7 linked regions of the Homo sapiens genome follow. The protein of the gene in region 2 purifies or fractionates together with the protein of the main gene of each other region. This does not show direct contact. Each region holds a gene or a part of one and is shown on either strand. Other genes may lie near its edges. The genes, in order: NRCAM, GLUD1, DDX42, NNT, NSRP1, CPSF6 and KDM4C.

The links.
Region 1: the proteins of GLUD1 (region 2) and NRCAM fractionate together in Homo sapiens (co-fractionation; one large-scale study listed by BioGRID). This does not show direct contact.
Region 3: the proteins of GLUD1 (region 2) and DDX42 purify together in Homo sapiens (affinity purification with mass spectrometry, with the first as the bait; one large-scale study listed by BioGRID). This does not show direct contact.
Region 4: the proteins of GLUD1 (region 2) and NNT fractionate together in Homo sapiens (co-fractionation; one large-scale study listed by BioGRID). This does not show direct contact.
Region 5: the proteins of GLUD1 (region 2) and NSRP1 purify together in Homo sapiens (affinity purification with mass spectrometry, with the first as the bait; one large-scale study listed by BioGRID). This does not show direct contact.
Region 6: the proteins of GLUD1 (region 2) and CPSF6 purify together in Homo sapiens (affinity purification with mass spectrometry, with the first as the bait; one large-scale study listed by BioGRID). This does not show direct contact.
Region 7: the proteins of GLUD1 (region 2) and KDM4C purify together in Homo sapiens (affinity purification with mass spectrometry; one large-scale study listed by BioGRID and IntAct). This does not show direct contact.

Annotation. Positions count from the first base shown.
Region 1 is NC_000007.14:108,149,793-108,152,436, forward strand, and holds part of NRCAM (neuronal cell adhesion molecule isoform A precursor), read right to left. Parts: intron 962-2,644; coding exon of another isoform or gene 928-961; exon of another isoform or gene 915-927; coding exon of another isoform or gene 903-914; intron 356-902; coding exon 118-355; 3' UTR 1-117. UniProt on the Homo sapiens protein: Cell adhesion protein that is required for normal responses to cell-cell contacts in brain and in the peripheral nervous system. Plays a role in neurite outgrowth in response to contactin binding.
Region 2 is NC_000010.11:87,074,344-87,077,843, forward strand, and holds part of GLUD1 (glutamate dehydrogenase 1, mitochondrial isoform a precursor), read right to left. Parts: intron 2,314-3,500; coding exon 2,233-2,313; intron 1,681-2,232; coding exon 1,625-1,680; intron 272-1,624; coding exon 208-271; intron 1-207. UniProt on the Homo sapiens protein: Mitochondrial glutamate dehydrogenase that catalyzes the conversion of L-glutamate into alpha-ketoglutarate. Plays a key role in glutamine anaplerosis by producing alpha-ketoglutarate, an important intermediate in the tricarboxylic acid cycle.
Region 3 is NC_000017.11:63,801,670-63,805,169, reverse strand, and holds part of DDX42 (ATP-dependent RNA helicase DDX42), read right to left. Parts: intron 100-3,500; coding exon 1-99. UniProt on the Homo sapiens protein: ATP-dependent RNA helicase that binds to partially double-stranded RNAs (dsRNAs) in order to unwind RNA secondary structures. Unwinding is promoted in the presence of single-strand binding proteins.
Region 4 is NC_000005.10:43,651,680-43,655,179, reverse strand, and holds part of NNT (NAD(P) transhydrogenase, mitochondrial), read right to left. Parts: intron 3,442-3,500; coding exon 3,296-3,441; intron 2,163-3,295; coding exon 1,967-2,162; intron 1-1,966. UniProt on the Homo sapiens protein: The transhydrogenation between NADH and NADP is coupled to respiration and ATP hydrolysis and functions as a proton pump across the membrane. May play a role in reactive oxygen species (ROS) detoxification in the adrenal gland.
Region 5 is NC_000017.11:30,179,316-30,182,815, reverse strand, and holds part of NSRP1 (nuclear speckle splicing regulatory protein 1), read right to left. Parts: intron 1,909-3,500; coding exon 1,800-1,908; intron 1-1,799. UniProt on the Homo sapiens protein: RNA-binding protein that mediates pre-mRNA alternative splicing regulation.
Region 6 is NC_000012.12:69,249,569-69,253,068, reverse strand, and holds part of CPSF6 (cleavage and polyadenylation specificity factor subunit 6), read right to left. Parts: intron 1,941-3,500; coding exon 1,731-1,940; intron 19-1,730; coding exon 1-18. UniProt on the Homo sapiens protein: Component of the cleavage factor Im (CFIm) complex that functions as an activator of the pre-mRNA 3'-end cleavage and polyadenylation processing required for the maturation of pre-mRNA into functional mRNAs.
Region 7 is NC_000009.12:7,166,973-7,170,472, reverse strand, and holds part of KDM4C (lysine-specific demethylase 4C), read right to left. Parts: intron 676-3,500; coding exon 583-675; intron 1-582.

The sequences.
Region 1 (2,644 bases), on a different chromosome or scaffold from region 2:
TAACATACAGCAGAAAATATACTCTCTACCCATATGTTCATAGTATGAGAGGGCTGACAAACAAGTGCTTAGGATAAACATTCTAGAGAAATGGAATATTGGCAAAGAGCTTAAAAATTAAACAAAGGAATTCATGGCGTTGACAGGAGAAGGTGCCTCTGAGCTTTCGTTTCCTTCAGCCGGCTCTTTCTCTTTCTTACCACTGTATTGTCCAATAAAGGAGCCATCCTCATTGAACTGGCCATTAACCCCTTCTCCATAGTCAACTAGGCTGTCGTCACTATCTTCTTTTTTCACAGTCCTGTCTGAAGGAGTTCGACTTCCTTTTTTCAAAGGCTTGTGGTCTTCTGCATCACTGGAAGAAAGAGAAAACATTTTTGTCAAGATTGGCATTTAGGTAACATTTTCTGTTTTTAAAGACCATGCATGCAAATTATGAGAAAGCATTTGGAGTCCTGGGCTTCTCTGGCCAAATCTAATTTTCAGGTTGACTCCAATGACGAGGATGAGTTGGAATGGAAATCAGGAGCAGAAATGGTTGAATCATGAAGTCTTCAGTAGAGTGGATGGCTCCCAATAGTGTTTGTTAATTTCAATGACAAATTCTGATTCCTGAGTTGAAAGCAATCCAGAAATAATCACAAGCATTAAATAAGAAAGAATTCAGAAAAGTAGAAAAATCATCACTATTTTGAATTCAAAAAGGCAAAAGCTTATGGCAAGTAAAGAAGTTAGTATGTTAAACTGCATAATATCTCTGATTCCTTGGTTGTGAATGGAGCATGATTTTGGTTAAGTGTGAAATGTGGATTTTTTTTTTCTGAGCCAGAAGGAGAAGCAAAATCCTGCATTTCAAATAATTTTGTTATCAATGCAGGCCAGACTGTAAACTTCAACCTTACCTTTCAAGAGACCTACAAAATTCCATTAAAAGGATGCAGAAGAAACAAATGAAAACAGCCTAAGAAGAAAAGCAAAATCCTTATACTGATAGTACACAGTATTTTTTTGTTTTTTTGGTAAAAATTTTAGTTAATGAGTAAAGATTTATTAATCTGGAAAGAGACGCACTTTAACTTAAAAGCTCTACATTTGTACTATGAATGGCATGCCAATATATTCTAAAGAATGTGAATGACTCCAAACATGTAATAGCAAATGCTTCCTACACTCATGTTAACCCCCCAGCTCCCTTCTTCCTTGTGTGTTATGCAGCCTGACTATACTGGATGGGAATCTGAGGAGTGTACTTTAATACGACTTTACAAGATTCCATTATTACAATTTTTGCTTATTTCTCTGTTGAACCCGTAAGCACAATTTCTGGAAGACAAAGAGTAATCATTATGTTTTTGAATGTTCACCCATACGGTCAAATACCTAGTTATGCATATTGACCTATTTTTTAATAGGTAACATTTGGGAAAAAAATAGAAAAAGGCAATGACAGGATCTAACATTTTGTTTTCTTTCAAAGAACAAAAATGCAAGGCAAAATAGGAAACATATACATTTTTACTAATGTAAAAATGAAAAAGCCTTAACATACAAAAGGTATCACTGGCTGCAGTATTTAATCTAGCAATTTCTGCTAAGACTTTACTGCTCCCTCTGTTTCAGACAGTGACTTTTTTTTTCAAGCCAAGATACAAACATTTCAAGATGCACAAGTATCCTGGCTCTTTTGACAATAACTTTTACTAGGGATTTCAATTTTTCTCCAAGAAGAAAATCTGAAGACTGGGAAATAATGCTAGCATAATATGACACTGGCATATGCCACTGAAAACAACCTGTTTCAGTAATACACAATTTCTTATTGCAAACTGAATAAACTATATTTTCACCACTGCTAATAAACAACTGGAGAGGTATCATCTTGGGGTGGTCTGTGTTTGTGAGCATTTCAGAGGACATAGCATTGAGTGTCTAACCTGTTATGAAAATAGCCTACACAACATCTCTGGGGTTTAATTATTAAATCCTTCTTGTGAAATATAGTTCATGTTTCAGTGTGACAGTTAATTCAGCTGAAGAGTTCAATAACAGGCAGAATTTGTCACCTGGATTCCAATGACTAGTCTTATTCTGCTCTGTAGAACTAGTGTCCCAAGGAATACACTGCTGGAAATTTGTCATCTGTGGCATTTCTTTGGTCTAGCCATCTATCCACCCATGCCTTCATCCAATAAATGTTTATTGAGTGACTACTCTAAGATAGATTGTTCTCGGCACTGGGAATATAGCAGCAAACAAAACAGACTAAAACCCTCACCTCACTGGCTTTATTTCTAGTGGAAGAAAATACAATTAACAATCAACATAATAAAAAAAATTACATATATATTATGTCAGAAGAGGATTAGCACTATGCAAAGTATAGAGCTGAGTAAAGACTGCAGAAGGTGTTGGAGAAGGGATGGAGAGCTGGCATTTAATAAGATGTCCAGGAAGACCTCATCAAGCAGTAATATCTGGTCAACAACTTTAAAAGAGTTGAGTTAGCAAGGTGAATAGTTGGAGGGAGAGCAGTTCCTGCAGGAGTAACAAGCAGTATAAATGTCTCGGGGTGAGGGGAAGCCTGGCAGGTTCTAGGAACACTAAGGAGCTTGGTGTGGCTGGGGGGAGGGAGAGAGAGAGAGAG
Region 2 (3,500 bases):
TACAAAAATCAGCTGGGTGTGGTGGCACATGCCTGTAATCTCAGCTACTTGGGAGGCTGAGACAAGAGAATTGCTTGAACCCAGGAGGCGGACGAGATCGCACCACTGCACTCTAGTCTGGGCAACAGAGTGAGACTCCGTCTCAAAAAAAAAAAAAAATTTTTAGATGTTCCCACTTTATACCAAAAACTATGTGGCTACACATACCAATAAAGCCCTTTTTTGCTAGCTCCATGGTGAACCTCCTTGTGATCTTTTCCAATTCATTATCCTGTAAAATAAGAAAACAAAAACAAAAGAAAAAATTGATATAAAAATCGCTTGAGATTATAGCTAGCATCTTATTTTCTATTTATAGTACATTTTCATATGTCTTCTCATGTAATCCTTAGAACAACTCATAAAGTAGGCATTGCCATTTTAAAGGTGACAAAATAAGGGATCAAAAAAGTAGGTTATAAAAACAAGATAGTAGAACTAGGGCTCAAATTCCCATTCTATTAATTCCCCACTGAAAAATACACTAAATCTTAATTAAGATTAATTTAAATATAATTATATTCCATTTAAATGGTGAATTTTAAAGAGAATAAAAATCATGCATTTATGTTTGTATATAGATAATTTAGTATTATGTAAAGCATTGTGACAATCAGTTTGAATTAACTTGGAACTGACTGGATAAAAAGTAAGGTTTTTATAGTCTTAGTTAAGATATGTGTCACTAGAATCAGATCCTGACATAAAAACTTCAGATCACAGTAATACTTTTTTCTTTTTGAGACAGAGTCTTGCTCTGTTACCCAGGCTGGAATGCAGTGGTGAAATCTCAGCCAACCTCTGCCTCCTGGGTTCAAGCAATTCTCATGCCTGAGCCTCCCGAGTAGCTGGGATTACAGGTGTGCACCACTATGCCTGGCTAATCAGATCACAGTATTTCTTAAATATGGGTATAAGTGTCTAAGTGAAGACATTATATAAATATGGGTATAAGTATATAAGTGAAGATATTAATTACGTTTTAACTAAGTAAGAAAATAATAAAACAAAAAGCAAAAAAGTAAAACAAAAGACTCATAAAAACAAAACCAAATGAAACAGAAAATGATAAAGGATATAGATATTAAGTAGGTGATCTTTATATGGCAAAACACGCTATGAGTTAATTCTTTACATTTTTCTATTCCATTTGAAAAGCAATGGGGACTACTGATCTCACTGATAGTGGGGGATACAGAGAAGCCCAGTAATTTCAAGTCCTTCATAAATGCACTGTGTGCACAAATGTCACTTTGAGGCCGGGTGCGGTGGCTCATGCCTGCAATCCTAGCACTCTGGGAGGCCAAGGCAGGTGGATCACCTGAGGTCAGGAGTTCAAGAACAGCCTGGCCAACATGGTGAAATCCCCTCTCTACTAAAAATACAAAAATTAGTCGGGCATGGTGGCGTGCACCTGTAATCCCAGTTACTGGATCAAGGAGAACTGCTTGAACCCGGGAGGCGGAGGTTGCAGTGAGCCAAGATTGCGCCATTGTACTCCGGCCTGAACAACAGAGGAAGACTCTGTCTCAGAAAAACAAAAACAACAACAACAATAAAAAACAAATATCACTTTCATACTTACAGTATAGTTCTTGGGATTGATCTTAACACCAGCTTTAGCACCCCCAAACGGCACATCTGAAAGAGAAGGCTGATGGTTGCTATTCCATATAAATGTTAAAAAAGTAAAATGACAGAAAGCACCACACAATATTAGAGAAACGTGATGCTTTAAGCTTGAATTTCTGAAAATTCAAGAAATAAACCTACCATCATTTTCTAAACTGTACTTTAAACAACATTTTGTTGAACAGAAATTGTTCAATAAAATTGGCTAGCCAAGTTCTAATATATATTTAATCAGTGCTCTTTACCACTTCTAAAAGATAATAGCTTATTTACTCTCCTTCTACTATAATTTGGTCTTATTTACAGAATGTGTTGAGGAATTGAAAACAAAGATCTAGACTTAAAATCCAATTATCTCCTATTTTAAAAAATCCCCCATGTAAAAAAAAAAGGCTATATCTTAATTTAGACTAATTGAAAAATGATGCAGGTCTTAAAGATTACAACTTGAAAAAAAATCAGTTCTGATAAGGTATATTTCTACAGCATCTTAACAGTAACATGTGTGTAAACATATTTCCCCAGAGTTCTCATTAGGCAGCAAGAAAGGCGATCACTTACCAACCACTGCACACTTGTATGTCATCAGAGAAGCCAAAGCTTTTACTTCATCTACACTCACATCAGTGCTGTAACGGATACCTGGTGGTGTTTTTAAAAAAATGTGTTGGGGTGGGTGAGAAAGAAGGGGTTATATTTAGAACAAACTTAAGTAAGCTTCAAAAAAGAAAGCTACAAATTGAAAATATCCACTTTTTACATTTTACATCCAAGCTATGTCCAAAAACACTTGAAGCAGCTTGTACATCAGAACACCATGAAAAATGAATATAAAACGTTAAAAAAACCTGCTAATAACAGTAACTATGATTTCACAAGACAAAAATCACCCTGCAATGAATTTCTGTACACTTTCCAGAAGGCTTTTTTATGTTCCTTTTACCTTTGGTTTGGGTGACCTGGTTGCAGGGAGTTCAAGAATTCAGGTTGCTTTTTTTTGGGGGGGTAGGGGTGGGAAACAGGGTCTTGCTCTGTTGCTCAGGCTGAGTGTAGTGGCACAGACATGGCTTACTGTAGCCTCAACCTCCTAGGCTCAGGTAATCCTCCCACCTCAGCCTCCTGAGTAGCTGGGACCACAAGTGCACACCACCATGCCCAGCTAATTTTTGAATTTTTTGTAGAGACAGGATCTCACCATGTTGCTCAGGCTGGTCTCAAACTCCTGGGCTCAAGTGATCCTCCCACCTTGGCTTCCCAAAGTGCTGGGATTACAGGCATGAGCCACTATGCCTGGCAAGAATTCTGCTTTCTGATAATTCACAAACATGGGCAATGAATAATCACCAGGTTCAAAATACCGTATGTCTAAACAGAGGTTTTGGCTTCAAATGGGTATATTAAAAGAGATCCTTACCTGTTATTCTCCTCACCCACTGCCAACCTCTTTCAATCTGAAAATGAGAAAGCCATTTTCCCTTTCTGAGGTTGAGTGATTCCCTTCACCACTTCTGCAAAGAGGGCAGGTAGCCAAGCAGACAGGTAGGTACTAGTGCCCCTGTATCTAGTAGCCATTACGTGTTGGTACAGGGTATACTGGAAGTGGGGATGCCCACAGCTTTGGCTTTGGGGGTCTTGGTCAATTACTCTTCAAAGTTTTGGAGTGCTAATCCACCTTTCTTTCTCTATAATCCATTGCTTCTCAATCCCAAGGAGGAAAGTCTGAGTGGGGTTGATGTTTGACTGCACAGTGCTTGGGGCACTGGGTGTTTGTGTGTGAAGGATACCCACAAGAAGCTGCAGCATTTTTTCTACCCTCCCACTCCCAACAG
Region 3 (3,500 bases), on a different chromosome or scaffold from region 2:
ATTGAGCTTATGCCGGAGATCTATTAACTGCTGTGGAGTGAGGTTGGTTATCTCTTCATGCTCATTGTAAAAGTTTTTTTCAAATGGTGGATAGTCAATCTGCAGGTCCAATTATTCAAAGTTAGTCTAGAATTCAAGAGTCAATTCTGTAAGTTTGATTTTATTGCAAAATAATCTTTTCCAAATTTTACACAAGTAAAGCCATTCCAGCTAGAGAAAGCAAAAAAATTAATTTATTCTCAGCTTAGATCCTAAAAAGTATAGCTAGTTTGTTTTCTGTTCCTATTTTCAATATAAACACCAACCTACTTCTTTTATTGGTTGAGACAGTTTCGCTCTGTCACCCAGGCTGTAGTGCAGTGGTGCGATCCTGGCTCACTGCAGCCTCCACCTCCCCGGTTCAAACAATTCTCACGCCACCTCAGCCTCCCAAGTAGCTGGGATTACAGGCATGAGCCACTGTGCCTAGCCTAACACCAACCTACTTCCTAAAGAGACTCTTAAGGAAACCTCGAATTTGAACAACATTGAAGCAGACTAAGGAATCTCTCTATAATGCCAAAGACCTCAGAGGACAGAGAAGATATTTCACCATATAACATTTAAATATGTTTTGAATAAAGCTGTTTAACCTAGCTCTAAGCATTTAAAAACACTCCTAATATTTATTTTGGAGATAGCTCTGCTTTTAGAGGGAGTTCTATTCTGTTTAAAAACATGGAGTTGTTTATAACTTTTAAAAAATGTATGGCCAAGAATTTCCAATTCCAGAAAGTAGTAGTCACTTCTATTATTCTTTTCATAGCTTAGTGTAGTAGGTATACAAAACATAAGCACATCACCACCTATCAATTTGGCTAAATTATTTTTTATAAACTATTTTTTTTTTCAGAGACAGGGTCTTGCTATGTTGCCCAGGCTAGACTCAAACTCCTGGGCTCAAGTGATTCTCCTGCCTCAGCCTCTCCAGTAGCTGGGACTCCAAGCATGCACCACCATGCCTGGTTCTTAAACTTATTTTTTAAGAAAAATATAAGCATTCTATAGGTAGTTAAAAAAAAAAATCATAGTTCTGGATACATAAAAAAAATTGGAAGAAGAGTGACACTATTGTATTTTCACAAATCTCTTTATTAATGTCGACTTAAATAGCTCCTACTATATTCAAATTATTGCAATAGGTTGGTTTTATTTAAGCCTATAAGAAATTCTTGCCTCCAGGCCTGGAGCAGTGGCTCATACCCGTAATCCCAGCACTTTGGGAGGCTGAGGCCGATGGATCACTTGAGGTCAGGAGTTCAAGACCAGCCTGGCCAACATGGTGAAAGCCCGTCTCTACCAAAAATACAAAAATTAGCCGGGCGTAGTGGCACACACCTGTAGTCCCAGCTACTCGGGAGGCTGAGGCAGGAGAATCTCTTGAACCCGGGAGGAGGAGGAGGTTGCAGTGAGCCAAGGTTGCGTCACTGCACTCCAGCCTGGGCGACAGAGCAGGACTCCATCTCAAAAAAAGAAAAAAAAGCAAAGGAAAAATACGTAGTTGAAAAAGAGAGGACAGTATTTTAGTAGCCTTTTCAGATACCTTTTTTTTTTTTTTTTTTTGAGATGGAGTCTTGCTCTGTCTCCCAGGCTGGAGTGCAGTGGCACAACCTCAGCTCACTGCAACCTCCTCCTCCAAGGTTTAAGTGATTCCCCTGCCTCAGCCTCCTGAGTAACTGGGATTACTGATGCCTGCCACCAATCCCAAAGACGGGGGTTTCACCATGTTGGCCAGGCTGGTCTCAAACTCCTGCCCTCAAGTGATCTGCCCACCTTGGCCTCCCAAAGTGCTGGAATTACAGGCATGAGCCACCGCACCCAGCCCTTTTCAGATACTTTTTATTTTACACTAAAACTTGACAAGTGGTCATTTCCTAAAAGTTATTTTCATTGTGTAATCTGAAACCATATTACTGAAGTTTTCACACTCTGTTACATTATAATCCATTTATTTATCATGTATTTTGAGTTGAGCTTTTATTCATGCTTGACTTTGTAATGTCATACATTGATCATTTGGAAAATATTGGTTCACTGAGGTTATATACAGATCATCCAAATGTTAACACATTTCATTATATTAAAAATCAGTTACTAATATCACCATCAATTTTGTCACAATGGTCTTTAAGTACTGAAAAGCTGTCAAGCCTACTGTGGTAGATGTAAGTTTTCCAAATTCTAATTTTTGCTTGAAAGCTTGAATTTTTTTTTTTTTTTGAGATGGAGTGTTGTTCTTATTGCCCAGGCTGGAGTGCAATGGCATGATCTCGGCTCACTGCAACCTCCGCCTCCTGGATTTGAGTGACTCTCCTGCCTCACTCTCCCGAGTAGCTGGGATTACAGGCATGCACCACCATGCCTGGCTAATTCTGTATTTTTAGTAGAGATGGGGTTTCTCCATGTTGGTCAGGCTGGTCTCAAACTGCTGACCTCAGGTGATCCACCCGCCTCGGCCTCCCAAAGTGCTGGGATTACAGGCATGAGCCACCATACCCAGCCTGAATTTTGTTATTAAAAAACAAAATTTAGATGGAGTTTCACCAAGTTGCCCAGGCTTATCTCAAATTCCTGAGCTCAAGCGATCTACCCGCCTCAGCCTCCCAAAGTGTTGAAATTACAGGCGTGAGCCATTGCGTCTGGCCGAAAGCTTGAATGTCTATCATGGGTAATAAACACTTTCAATTGTTTTCCTTGAAATGTCATTGATTTTGTCCAGTGAAAGTGGTGTTCTATGAAAAAAAGTAGCTAGTTCACCTTACAACTCAAACACATAAGTGCTTTTCCTTGAAATGGCTATCATATTTTGGTATGCAACAGAAATGCTTTATGCGTACTTCCCATTTTATCACACAGAATAAAAAGACATGTAGCTCAAGGGTCACGACTTTAATAATTTTTACTGTTCAGGGCATTCTTGAGTGAAACTGGCCTTTTTTTTTCTTTTTAACTGCAATGGTCTGAGAACAGAGAATACGCCTACTAGAACAGTTTGGTGCCACTGGCTTGATTCATGCTAAGGCATCAGCAGTTTTACTTATCACTGCTTTTACACCAACAATGTAAATGTTGATGCAGTAACAAAGGAAAACAATCTTGGTATAATGAAAAGTGTTTGGACTCTGTAGGCTCCCTGAAAGGGGTTCTTGGTCCACACTGAGAACCACTGCTCCAGATCTAGAATCATTAGTGTATGTGAGATCTCGGCTGATATTTAACCTGGATGAAACACTGATATTTTTTCAAGTGGGTATACCGATGTCCTCATTCCTTAAGGATCCTGTAATTACTGGCTCCACTGTGAAGAAACAGCCTCTCATCTGCCCCAGATCTAGGACCAACAGTAAAAATTTATAGCAATTAAAAAAACAAATGTGACCGGATGCAGTGGCTCACATCTGTAATCCCAGCACTTTGGGAGACCAAGGTGGGTGGATCACTTGGGGTCAGGAGTTCGAGAC
Region 4 (3,500 bases), on a different chromosome or scaffold from region 2:
CTCCCCATTGCAACCCAGGCCCTCTTCTCTATAGCCAGTGCTTTCTCCTGAGCACATAAGAAACACCTGGAACATGAAGAAGACCTTGGTTTTCAGGTGGGTAGGTGGGAGCAAAGTCCCAAGGTAAAGAAATGCAAAAATCTGGGCAGTAAATACCCAAATTAGGAGCCTCTGAAGGAACTGCATGGCTATAGGTAGGTGATACAGAAGGAGTGGGGCTCAGAATATTTGCTAAGATCATGTCTAAAGGTTTTCCTGCCATGAACCTACAGAGCAAACATTTTCCTTCAAGTCCCTTTCCCCAGAGATTATCAAGAAAAGAGTCAAAGCTTTCCTGAGGAAGTATAAAAGGAGGCCTAAAGCCAGTGTTCCACTGGGAAACATTTAATAACCAGTTCCAGGGGAAAAAAATACATGCACATACAAATACATGAGCTTTAACTGATATAAAGGTGGCTAGCACACAATTTTCAAATAATAAGAAATAGTGCTCTTTACTGAAAATTCCATGTAGACAAATTGACTTTCAAAGAATGTTTTTATGGATCTTTGCTAAACTCTTACATCTGTAGCCAACCTAGTGTTTGCAACTGATGAACAAGCATACTTCCAACAGGAACATTGTTTGATATTTTTATTTGCTTTAATAAGTAAGACGAAAGTAAAACAACAGAATGTATGCGAGAACTTCACTCATTTATCAACCATATGAATGACTTTATTGCTGAATCTGATAATAGTTTTCAAATACTGGAAGATTATTTGCTCAATTATTTGTGCTATTCACAATGTCACAGCTACAGTCAAAACATCTCAAGTTTAAGCTGCATCATTAACATTTTCTCCATCACTTTCTCACGTCTGGACAATAAACAAAACAATAAATCAAGCCCAGATTTGTAGCGTTTGCTTATTTCCACACTGCAATACTGCTACCAAGTCAAATTTCAATCTACCAATGTGATGTCATTGAATGTAGAATTGGAAAGAGATGTACCACAGCCCACTGATACATAGTATTTCTTCTATACACATACAATAGACATAAGTAACCTCAAGAGCATAGACAATAAAACCTAGTAAATTAATTAGAAAGTTACGAGTTTTTAATATTATTAACTTTGTTTCTGATTCATTTAAGTTTATGTAATTTAGTATTTAATAATGGCTGTGTTTAACAATCAACTTTAAAAATTCCTGGAAAAAAAATTTTTTTTTTTTTTTTGAGACAGAGTCTCGCTTTGTCACCCAGGCTGGAGTGCAGCAGCATGATCACAGCTCACTGCAACCTCCACATCCCAGGTTCAAGCGATTATCATGCTTCAGCCACCCAAGAAGCTGGGATTACAGTTGTACGCCACCATGCCCAACTAATTTTTGTATATTTAATAGCGACGGGGTTTCACCATGTTGGCCAGGCCAGTTTCAAACTCCTGGCCTCAAGTGATCCACCCACATCAGCCTCCCAAAGTGCTGGGATTACAGTCTGAGCCACCATGCCCAGCCTAAAAATTCCTGAAAATTTAACAATCCAGCAAACAACTGAATAAAATTAAAACAGTAGTTTTTCTGCTGGCACATGTTTTTTTTTTTTTTTTTCATTTTTAACAGGTCTATGAAGCAGAATCTTTGGCTGTTATTTATACCCAGCAGAACAAAAGTTAGCTTATGTATAGTACATACATAAGGATTCCAATCCCCCATTCCATTATCAGCTAACGGGACACAGTCAGTAAAGGAAGATAAGAATTGAGTATAGGATATTTTGACTCAGTTGATGCATTTATTCAGTGTTCTAAAATGTATTTGAATGAGAATTACACCAACTGGAATGAATTTTCACCAAAATAATATTAACTGAAGCAACTTCCATGAACAAAATTTAATTATTTCATCAATATGGACCTTAGAAATATATATTGAGAAACTGGAGTTCACATGAAGGCAGAAGCCCACAAGTGCTTACCAATGGTACCACCCAAAGCCATCGCTCCAGACATCTGAGCTAGTAATTCTGGGCCCGGTTTTAGGACTCCGAGGGTGGCTGCCAGTCCTCCAGCAACCCCAATCATGCCCAGTGCATTGCCAAGACGTGCTGTTCCCTGGGTGGAGAGGCCAGCCAAGGCACCGACACAGCACAAACCCGAGCCTAGGTACATGATCTTTTCAAAGGAAAAGTGAGAGAGAGATTATTAAAACCTTTGGTCTATTAGCTTAGAGATTTCAATATATTTTCCTGCCAATTAGGAATATTAACATATTAAATACTTATATTGTATTTGCACTTATACCATTTATATAAATTGATTTTTTCTGGATTTGCTATCATGCACAAATACACATAAAAGTACCTAAATTTAAATGGAGTCATTACTGGATCTAAAAATACTAAACCTGACCAAATGCTGTAAAAGAGCCAACCCCTGAGGTAAGTGCCAGGGGCTTTGCCACATGTTTTATTTGTGTTGTCACAGTGTCATGAGATCCACAAGAGGGAAAAATCATTATCCTCATTTTGCAAAAGACAGAATCAAAGCTTAAAGAAGTTGCATATTTTCTCCAAGGCAAATGATCAATAAATTGGAAATCTGGAATTCAGACTAAGGTCTTTCTGACTCACTGCTCCAACTCTTCTCAAAAAAAAAAAAAAAATTGTTCATTCAATAAATACTGCAGGTTGGAAACATAGAAGAAACTAAAAGACAGCCATTGAAAAGAAATAGAAAATACAGAGTTCAGAACAAAGCTGAAGGTCTGTTATATTACAAGTTGGAACTTTCAAAGTCCAGCTGGATTATTTCTGTTTTTCTATACAACATTAAGTTTAAACTATCCTTTTCTTTATGGATTTTTTTATGAATATATAACATCTCTTAGTAGCAAGAGATGATGTGCTGGATTTGTAGAGGAAGAATAGGAAAAGAACTAATAGTACTTAATAATAATTTTTCAAATTTTGTATTGTTTCATTATAAATCCACCGCAATCTAGCTAGATACATAATGAAGATACTGATAACCTTAACTCCTCTTACATGTGGAAAAATGTATCAAAACAAAGACATAAACCCATATTTAAACTCAGTTACCAGAAAAATCTGTCTCTAGAATCCAGGGTCCTGATCCTTAGGGGAAGAGAATGCTCAGTTTGACCAAGATGTTTCTAGGGTTATTGTTGTATTTGCTTGACAGAGTTGTATTTGCTCGATACTTTGAATTAGGATAACTAACAATGTTAAATCTAATAGAGAAGAAAATATTGTGGTAAATATAAAAACTTACAAAGAGCATCTTACCTGTTCAATGTTATAACCACTGTAGAGGGCAGCTAAATATCCACCAACAAAGGTGCCGGCAGGGAGCAGGTACAGGTAGTTGTATTCTGGGGGGTCAGTGGGACGCTTGAACATGTCCAGCATTCTCTGAGTCACCAGAAAGCCACCTTAGCAAACCAAAGGAAATAAAAAACATAGTACCTCTTTGAGCTCACTGAGCAACATG
Region 5 (3,500 bases), on a different chromosome or scaffold from region 2:
ACAACAGGCGCCCGCCACCACGCCTGGCTAATTTTTTGTATTTTTAGTAGAGACGGGATTTCACCGTGCTGGCCAGGATGGTCTCAATCTCCTGACCTCGCAATCCGCCCGCCTTGGCCTCCCAAAGTGCTGGGATTATAGGCATGAGCCACCGTGCCCAGCCATTTTATTTTTTGAGATGGAGTCTGGCTCTGTCGCCAGGTTGGAGTGCAGTGGCGCTATCTCAGCTCACTGCAATCTCCGCCTCCCGAGTTTAAGCAATTCTCCTGCCTCAACCTCCCCAGGAGGTGGGATTACAGGCATGTGCCACAATGCCGAGCTAATTTTTGTATTTTTAGTAGAGACAGGGTTTCACCATGTTGGCCAGGATGGTCTCCATCTCCTGATCTCATGATCCACCTGCCTCAGCCTCCCAAAGTGCTGGGATAACAGGCGTGAGTCACTGCGCCCAACCTACTTTATTTACTTTAAATTAATTTAAGTAGCTACACGTGACTAGTGCCTACATACTAACAGTGCAGTTCTAGCCCCGATATGTAAGTCTTACATTTTAGGAAGGCTGGGTTCTATTTATGAAAACAAACCACTTTCCTTTTTATACACTATCTGAACATGTATATAAGACTTATATTGTAGACACCTAATTCTTTCCAACTTTCTCCTTAATTCTGACAGCAAAATCATTTTAAGGTACCAGGCACCAATCATTTTAAGGATCATGAGGAATACCCACATTCTTATTTAAAAAAAAAAAAAAAAAAAAAAAAGCAGCCAGGTGCAGTGGCTCATACCTGTAATCCCAGCACTTTGGGAGGCTGAGATAGAGGGGGGATCCCTCAAACCCAGGAGTTCAAGACCAGCCTGGGCAACATAAAGCCCCATCTCCACAACAAAAATACAAAAAGAGGCTGGGCGTGGTGGCTCATGCATATAATCCCAGTACTTTGGGAGGCCGAGGCGGGTGGATCACCTGAGGTCAGGAATTCGAGACTAGTCTGGCCAACATGGTGAAACTCCATCTCTACTAAAAATACAAAGATTAGCCGGGCGTAGTGCATGCACCTATAGTCCCAGCTACTCAGGAAGCTGAGGCACGAGAATCCCTTGAACTTGAGAGGCAGAGGTTGCAGTAAGCAGAGATCGCGCCATTGCACTCCAGCCTGGGTGACAGAGCAAGACTCCATTCCATCTAAAAAAAAAAAAAACAAAAAAAAAAAACCACACACACAACAACAACAACAAAAAACACAAAAAGAAAATTCGCTGGGCATGATGGCTTGCACCTGTAGTCCCAGCTACTTGGGAGGATCATTTGAGCCCATGAGGCAAAGGCTGCAGTGAGCTATGATTGAACCACTGTACTCCATCCACCCTAGGCGACAGAGTGAGACTCTGCCTCAAAAAAAAAAAAAAAAAAGAAAAAAGAAAAAACTACAATTTGATTTTGCTTTCCCTTGAAGATTTTGCTCTCCCTTGTTAAGACCCATAAATCACTTAAAAATTCAGAAACTTTATACATTAAAAGTCTGTCTTTGGTTTTACAATAATATTAAACTCAATCACTGTTTTAATGTAACAATTTCTGTGAAATGCAGAATAAAAATGATCTTAAACTAAATCTGTAGGTTTTAAAATCAAGAAACTGCAAATTTCTAGCCATTCATTCAGTTAGGTAAGGCTGGCTGACAACACAATATGCAATGTTGTAATCTTCCATCTTTCAGAGGGTTAAAATGACCCCACAACCACAGATTATTAACAGTATTTTTCTTCAAAATATTTCATACACGTCTCCTCACCTGGCTTCACGAAAGCTGCATTTAGGTACTTCCTCTTCACCAACTGCTTGATTTAATAGGTGCCTATAAAATCCACTGAGATCTTTCTGCTTGGTTACATCCAAACATGCTAACAGAGGGAAAGCAAAAATTAGAATATATTCAATAAGGCACAGTGCAGTTTCATTTTACAGACATACAGTATATAACATACAGTGTGTAAACTACTCGCTGGATCAGGAGTTGGCAAACTGCAGGCCAAATCTGGCCTGTTGCCTGTTTTCATAAATAAATTTTTATTGAAACAAAGCCCTGTTCATTTATGTATTGTCCACAACTGCTTTTGTACTACAAAGGCAGAGCTCAGTAACTGCGACAGAGATCATATACACAAAAAGCCCTAAAGTATGAATATGATCTGGCATTCAAAATATGAATTTATAAATTTAAAGTCTTAAAATATGAATACTAAAATACTATCTGGTCCTTTACAGAAAGTTTGCCGACTGGCACTCTAAACACATAGTACATGCTTAGACAGAATGTTATAGACTTGGTTTTCTTCTACTTAAAAGCTGAAGAGGATGGGCGCAGTGGCTCACGCCTGTAATCCTACAACTTTGGGAGGCTGAGGTGGGTGGATCACCTGAGCTCAGGAGTTCGAGACCAACCTGGCCAACATGGTAAAACTCCGTCTCTATAAAAATATAAAAATTATCCAGGTGTGGTGGTGCATGCCTGTAATCCCAGCTACTTGGGAGCCTGAGGCATAAGAATCACTTGAACTTGGGAGGCAGAGGTTGCAGTGAGCCAAGATCATACGACTGCACTCCAGCCTGGGCGACACAGCGAGACTCTGTCCAAAAAGCTGATGAGCATTTGTCAATTAAAGTATTTACAGGGCTGGTCATGGTGGCTCACACCTGTAATGCCAACACTTTGGGAGGCTGAGGCAGGAAGATTGCTTGAGCCCAGGAGTTCGAGACCAGCCCCGGCAACATAGTGAGACCCCGTCTCTACAAAAAATACAAAAAGTAACCAGACGTGGTGGTATGTTCCCGTAGTCCCAGCTACTCAAGAGGCTGAGGTGGGAGGATCACTGGAGCCTGGGAGGTCAGGGCTGCAGTGAGCCATGGTTGAGCCACTGCACTCCAGCCTGGGTGACAGAGACCCAGTCTCAAAAAAAAAAGTATTTTATAAATACATATTCTACTTAGATCTTGAGAAATAATCATGAGTAGAAAGCACTAAGGTAAAGCATTAAGATATTCTTAATTCATCCAATTTTTATTCTTTCTTCAATTAATGTTATTCTTTTTCTAATTGCCTCATTGATCCTCCTTGAGTGGTGTTACTCTATTATTTTCTCATCCCAAAAAAATGTAACTAGGGTTTAAAATTATATTTATATTGTTTCTGACAAATGCCATGGCGTTATACTTTGTAATAAATGTTTTTACATTTCAGATCATGTTCTAAGGCAAAAGCCACAAAATGAGAACTAAGAGAAAAGTCTAGTAGAAATAATAGTTACTGAAGAGTTCAACTGTGTTTTTAGTTAAACTTTCCTTTCTGTTTTATACTGCTATATAATACCATATTCCTTGTGTCTTGAATTCCTATATATAAATTATGATCACAAACTCATAACCCTAAAGTTCAGTGACAGAGCAAACAGCTAACCACAGGGGAGAGATTCTGCTACTGTTTCCTTGTGCCTTT
Region 6 (3,500 bases), on a different chromosome or scaffold from region 2:
GTCTTCATCTGTTGTCCACTGCAAGATATTTTCCCCCTCATTAACCATTAAAATAAAACCAAGATTTTTATTATCCCAGTCTAGTTTTTAAGGGGAAATTTGAGACATAAAAGAGAAAATAAATGCTGAGTGCAAATCTAAGTCTAGTTATGGCCAGTCAGACTCCAATTTTTAAACAGCACAAAAACCATCTGGGAACCTAACTTCATTCCCTGATAAGTATTTCAGAAACTAGAAGGTATATACCCTTGGGGTTACAATAAGATTTGACTCTCAAGAGTTTCTGGTCCCTTACAGCTTTAAACTGCTATGATTTTAAATTGTGAATAAAACCAATTTCACTTCCTCCCATTAAAGGAAAGTATTTTGAATTTCATCTTGTTTTTGAATTAAAATGCAGATAAGAAAAAACTAACATGTATTTAATATCTACCATATACTTTATGTATCAACTAACTCTTATAACAACCATATAAGCACTATTATTATACCCATTTTACACATGATACAATAGAAGTTAAAGAGCTTTAACTCTTTAACAAGGTCACAAAACTAATAATAGATGGTGGAGCTAAGATCCAAATACTTACTTAGCAACCATACTTTCATAACTACACTGCTACTGTCTCCAATTTTATAGAATACTCAGACTGGGTGGTGGGAGATCTGTTACATTTAGTTTTAAAAGAAATGTAAATAGGCTGGGCACCATAATCCTAGCACTTTGAGAGCTTGGTTAGGAGGATCACTTGAGGCCAGGAATTTGAGGCCAGCCTGAAGCAATATAGCAAGAAGTCAGCTCTACAAAAGTGTTTGTTTTGTTTTTAATTAGCCAGGCAGAGTGACACATGCCTGTGGTCCTAGCTACTTGGAGGCTGACACAGGAGAATCACTTCAGCCCAGGAGTTTGAGGCTTCAGTGAGCTATGATTACACCACTGCACTCCAGCCTGGGTGACAGAGTTTTGCAAATTCTGTCTCCCCCTGAAAAAAAGAAATGTAAATAAAACGTTTAAAAATACAGTGTTATTAAGGAAATGCAAGGGTGCCAAGTTTTATTGATTTTTGCATATACAAGTTTTTAACTTTCAAGTATACATATAACTAAGTAGAAATACAAACATTCTATAGGACTATTTTAATGATACTTAAGATGTAATATTAATAAAAAATAAATATACATATGTGCATTTAATGAAGCTCTAAATCAATAATCTTAGTCTCATGACAACCCAAATTAAAATATAATACGCACAGAAGTGCTTCTATAAATCAGATTTCAAATTTAAGGGCAGAAATAAAACTCAAATTTGTAACACAAATTAAATAATGGACACTATTTTTAAACCAGGAGTGATACTATGTCTCTTTCCTTTTACACTTGAATCCTGGTTTGAGACCCCATGTGAGCATTATTTTTAGTGAAACTGGGCTATCGGAAGCAAGGTAAAGTGGTAGCATAAAAAAGGTAACTGAAGACAAAACTAATTTAACTATATTTAACTAGTATCTCCACCAAGAAAAGTTGAATGACCACAAAACTCAAAACTAGAAGAATTCGAATTAACGATGTTGCAAAGATATTTGTATTTCCCTCCTCATTGGACAAGCAAACACATATAGAAAAACACAGTAACTTCAAACTTATAAAAATCTGGAGAAAAACATTAATTACTAGAGCAGTTCAAAATCAATTACCAATAATTTAATTCTTATATTAACTTCACTTACCCATGTTAGATTTCCAATATATAATGCAATTCTCTTTCCAGTATATGTATAGACAACATTTGGTGCTGCTCCTTTACCCACATCATCACCAACAGTTGGTGGGAGAGTATCCATGTAATCTCGGTCTTCTGGGGCATCTCCATTATTTGCAGATGGAGATATGACATCGTCATACAAATCTATCTGATCATGCCCACCATATTCAGCTTCCTGAGATACAGAAATAATGCTCTAGATTATACAAAAGTCAAAATACTACTAAAATAGACTTGAATACAAATTCAACTTTTTGTTTTAAAAATCTGATGGAAAAAGGCCAAGGATTTCAGTACAAATCTTTTTCCACTTTATGCAATAGATGTATTCTTGAACAGGTCTAAAAAGTGAATTTCTTGCCGGGAGTGGTGGCTCACACCTGTAATCCCAGCACTTGGGAGGCCGAGGCAGGTGGATCACTTGAGGTCAGGAGTTCGAGACCAGCCTAGCCAACATGATGAAGCCCTGTCTCTACTAAACATACAAAAATTAGCCAGGCATGGTGGCACACGCCTGTAATCCCAGTTACTCAGGAGGCTGAGGCAGGAGAATCGCTTGAACCTGGGAGGCGGAGGTTGTAGTGAGCCAAGATCGTGCCATTGCACTCCAGCCTGGGCGACAGAGCAAGACTTCATCTCAAAAAAAAACAAAAAAACAAAAAAAGGGGGTTTCCTTTATTTCTTTTCTTTTTTTTCTTTTTTTTTTTTTTTTTGTAGAGACCAGGTCTCGCTACATTGCCCACGCTAGTTTCGAACTCCTGAGTTCAAGCAATCCTCCTGCCTCGGCCTCCCAAATATAGGCTTGAGCCACTGCACCCAGCCTAAAGTTAATTTCTATATAACGAAACCTACTTTTCCACTGATATTTATTATAATATAAAAAATAAGTTCTTTTGGAAAAAGACATGGAAACAAAATAAGTAACATGAAACTTTCCTTGGAAATACTCTTAACTAGAAGTAATAACACACAAATGCAAATAGACAAGTTTTTTTTAAACTGACAGTAGAAAAATCACCCCAAAATCCAAAGCCATTATATCTTTAATATGACCACAGAAAAATAGTTATTATTTTCTATAGTATTCAGATCTTGTTTTCCAACCTTGAGGAAGCTACCAGTATTAAAAAAAAGCATAGTGAGCTGAGCCATAAAAGAAAGAAGAAATATGGGTATGTAAATAATTCAAAATGTCGTAATAAATGAACAAGGTAAAGAGAAATAAACGAAATACATGTAGAACAATCCAAATTAATTATCTTGCAAGTTGTATTATTCTCAGTGAACAAAGAGCTAATGCTTACCTGAATTCTTAGTTATCTAGTCAAGCAAATTAGCAAGAGAAAAGCAACAGACAACAAAAAGAGTATAGTAAAGCTTTGGCACTGTCACCAGCAGAATTAAAGCAATGCTACTGGGTGTCACTTACATGCCTAAATGATAATCAGGGAAAAGGAAAACTAAAATGAAACAGAAACAGGAGCAGGAAAAAAATAGAAGAGGGTTCAATTTGTAACTAAGTACATGAAAAATGAAATGTAGGTAAAAGCAGAACACTCAACACTATTTAATTGCCTTTGATAACCATTAAATAGACCATAAGCTTGACTAAGCCTGTAGCACAGGAAAATCTCCATTTTTATCTTCTACTCTCCCTTTCCACAACTAAGTACTTGTATTGGTGTGAACCATTTTATTCTTATGACATAGAACATCTGACATAAGGAAAAAGACA
Region 7 (3,500 bases), on a different chromosome or scaffold from region 2:
ATGAAACTACTATTTCCTTTTTAAAAAACTGCTTTAGTATTCCCACAACTAGCATTTAGGCTTTGTTTATCCCTTTTATTATGAAAGTCAGAGTTTAGCTTAATGATGAACTGACACAAACATCAGTAACTTTCTGAGACAGAAGGTAGTCAATCCATGAAAAACCTATAAAAGAATAGACAGACATTCAATTATGCCGAGTCCCCTTTGATCTACTCCTGAATACTTTTAATGTTGCTTCTACTAACAAGATTGCAAATGCCTTGATGGTATCTTTGTTTGCTCCTGGTGTTTTACACAGAGCACACATTCAGTAAGTATTTTTGTGCACCAATAAATGTCAACACAAAGAAGCATCATGTGACTTCATTAGAAGAAAAGTAAAGCACATGCATTAATTTCCCCGATTTTGGTTGAATTTGAAGTTTGCATTCAATAGGTTCCACTAAGGAAAATGTTGCATTGGCTTTTTTTAGAATTAATCCAAAAGCCCAAGTATGTTTCCTGCTGGGCTTGGGAAACATGAGGTGAGGACAAGGAATTCACTTGGCAGGTCCCCAAGTGGCATCTGCCAGCACTTACAAATCGAGCTTTCACTCTCTTGGGTAACTCTTCATCTAAAGTGTAGATGTCCTCTCTCTTCATTGCTATCTGGGATCCATCTTCAAACTCAACCTAATGAAAGATAATATAACATGATACATATTAAAAAAACAGCACTGACCATTTTTAAAGGCTCCAATTAACTACATGAAAAGATGAAAAGGACTCAAACAGAACAAACAAGGGAACCAGCCAACAACCAAGGAAGTAAGAAGAGTTATTTCCCTTATTAAGTAGAGGCCGGGCATGGTGGCTCACGCCTGTAATCCCAGCACTTTGGGAGGCTGAGGCAGGCAGATCCCAAGGTCAGGAGATCGAGACCATCCTGGCCAACATGGTGAAACCCTGTCTAACAAAAATACAAAAATTAGCCAGGCATGGTGGCGCATGCCTGTAGTCCCAGCTACTCAGGAGGCTGAGGCAGGAGACCCGCTTGAAGCTGGGAGGCAGAGGTTGTAGTGAGCTGAGATCGCACCACTGCACTCCAGCCTGGTGACAGAGTAAGACTCCGTCTCAAAACAAAAAAATAAATAAATAAACTAAATACAAAATACATTTCAAAACAGGCCAAAATTCTTGGAAATGAGTGTCTTGGAATACAGGATATGAAAACTTTATCTGGCGAAGCAACAACAAAGAAAAGTAGCTGCTGATCAAATGGAAATCACAAAACATGAGACTGTGGGAAATTCAGCATTAAAATGGGTTGGGTCTGTCAGCACGGTTCATTTCTTTAAGAGGCTCTGACAACGTAACAAGGAGAATTGTTTCTCTCTGTGAAAGAAAAGATAATATATTTCCTTTTTTTTTTTTTTTTTTTAAATTGAGACAGGGCCTTGCCCTGTTGCTCAGGCTAGAGTGCAGTGGCCTGATCTCAGCTCACTGCAACCTCAACCTCCCAGGCTCAAGCAATCCTCCCACCTCTGCCTCCTGAGAAGCTGGAACCATAGCTGTGTGCCACAACGCCCAGCTATTTTATTTTATTGTAGTTTTTTAGTAGAGATAAGGTCTGACTAGACTCAAGCAATTCTCCCACCTTGGCCTCCCAAAGTGTTGGGATTACAGGTGTCAGCCACCATGCCCGGCCTGTTTACTCTTATATAATAATCCTCCCAGATAAAATAATTTATGCATTTCTTACAGAGCTTGAACTTTCAAAATTCACGTGTCAAATTCAATCAAATGCCATCAAAGGAGCTGGGAAAATCTGTTTCTCAACCTCCTAACATGTAAACCTCATCAATGTGTGAAAATACATCATCATCTAAAACAAAATGTTTAAAACTTTTCTCGCACTAACCAAATGGAAGCAAATAATTTCATAACCAATTGTTTTTAACATTTTAAAAGATTTTGTCAAAGAAAAGGTAAATAACACCAGCTAACAGAAACCTAGAGCACCTAGGTTTAGATTGGTTTAGGTTTAATACAACATGAACTAATCTAGCAGGAAACAAAACGGATGTAATCAGGTAGAATACTTAATATGTTCTAACTCTGAACCACATGGTATTTTTGAAGTCCCTAAATTTTGTCTGAATTTTTTAAAGAAATGAAAATATGCTTATACTTCTAGTCAAAAGGTAAGTTAAACCACACAGCTGTGCCATGTTAATAAAAAAAAAATCTAGAGTTTGAAAAAAATTTACACTAATTTTTTTTTGGTTTTTGGTTTTCTCTTGAGACGGAGTTTCGCTCTTGTTGCCTAGGCTGGAGTGCAACGGCGCGATCTCGGCTCACTGCAACCTCTGCCTCCTGGGTTCAAGTGATTCTTCTGCCTCAGCCTCTCAAGTAGCTGTAATTATAAGCATGCCGCCAACCATGCCTGGCTAATTTTTATACATTTTTTTAGTAGAGACGGGGTTGCACCACGTTGGCGAGGCTGGTCTCGAACTCCTGACCTCAGATGATCTGCCTGCCTCGGCCTTCCAAAGTGCTGGGATTACAGGCATGAGCCACTGTGCCCAGCTACACTTATTGTTTAATTCACAGAATGTCCAACTGATATATCGCTGCACTTTGCACTAAGCAAACACTCTCTTGAGTGGATGATAATATTAACTGGCCACATCTGTGCCAATGCATTGGTCTAGCTTTGCTGAGACACCCAGGTGGGTATGTCTCTCAGGCACAAGTTACCAATTCTGGTTGATGAACATCCACCACGGTCTTAATAAAGATCAAACATACAATTGAACGTATTATTATCCACGTACTGTTAGCATTTTGAATAAGCTAAACAATACAGTGGAATTAGGTGCCAGTCACATGAGAACCCTTGCTGTCACTTCCGGGAGGGCTAACAATGGGAAGGGTTTTCTTCCTGGCCTTGTTTGAGCAGAAACATTTCTTTAACATTGAACTAGGCCATAGTGTCATCTGATTTACCCAACTTAGTTGATAGCATAGCTAGAACCACCTGTGCCTACTTTCATTTGTTTTAGACCACTTAAAACATCGAAAAGACAAAAAGGCAATTACAAACCTAGAAGGGAGTATGCTGTGCTAGGACTAGGGTAACCAACCGTCCTAGTTCGCCTGGGACTCAAGGGTCCCTTGGGATGTAGTTATTTTCAGTACTAAAATCAGGGATGGTCCCAGGCAAGCAGGGATGGTTGTCCACCCTAGTTAGGGCAGAGCTGAGAGAGAATTTTGGCCCTCTCTTTACCAGCTGCGTGCTCTCGGACAAATTATTAAAAAATTATTCTTAAATCATTAAAAATTTTGTTCACAGCCTTTCTTCCCTCATTTGTAAGACAGGAGTCAATAACATCTATTTTGTAGGACTACTCTGAGGGTCAAAAAACGCATATGCCTAGGATATTAAGCACTGTGCAGCAGGTATTTATTTATCTGTCATATCTATTTTTAAAACTGTCTTTGTTTATTTGATGGTG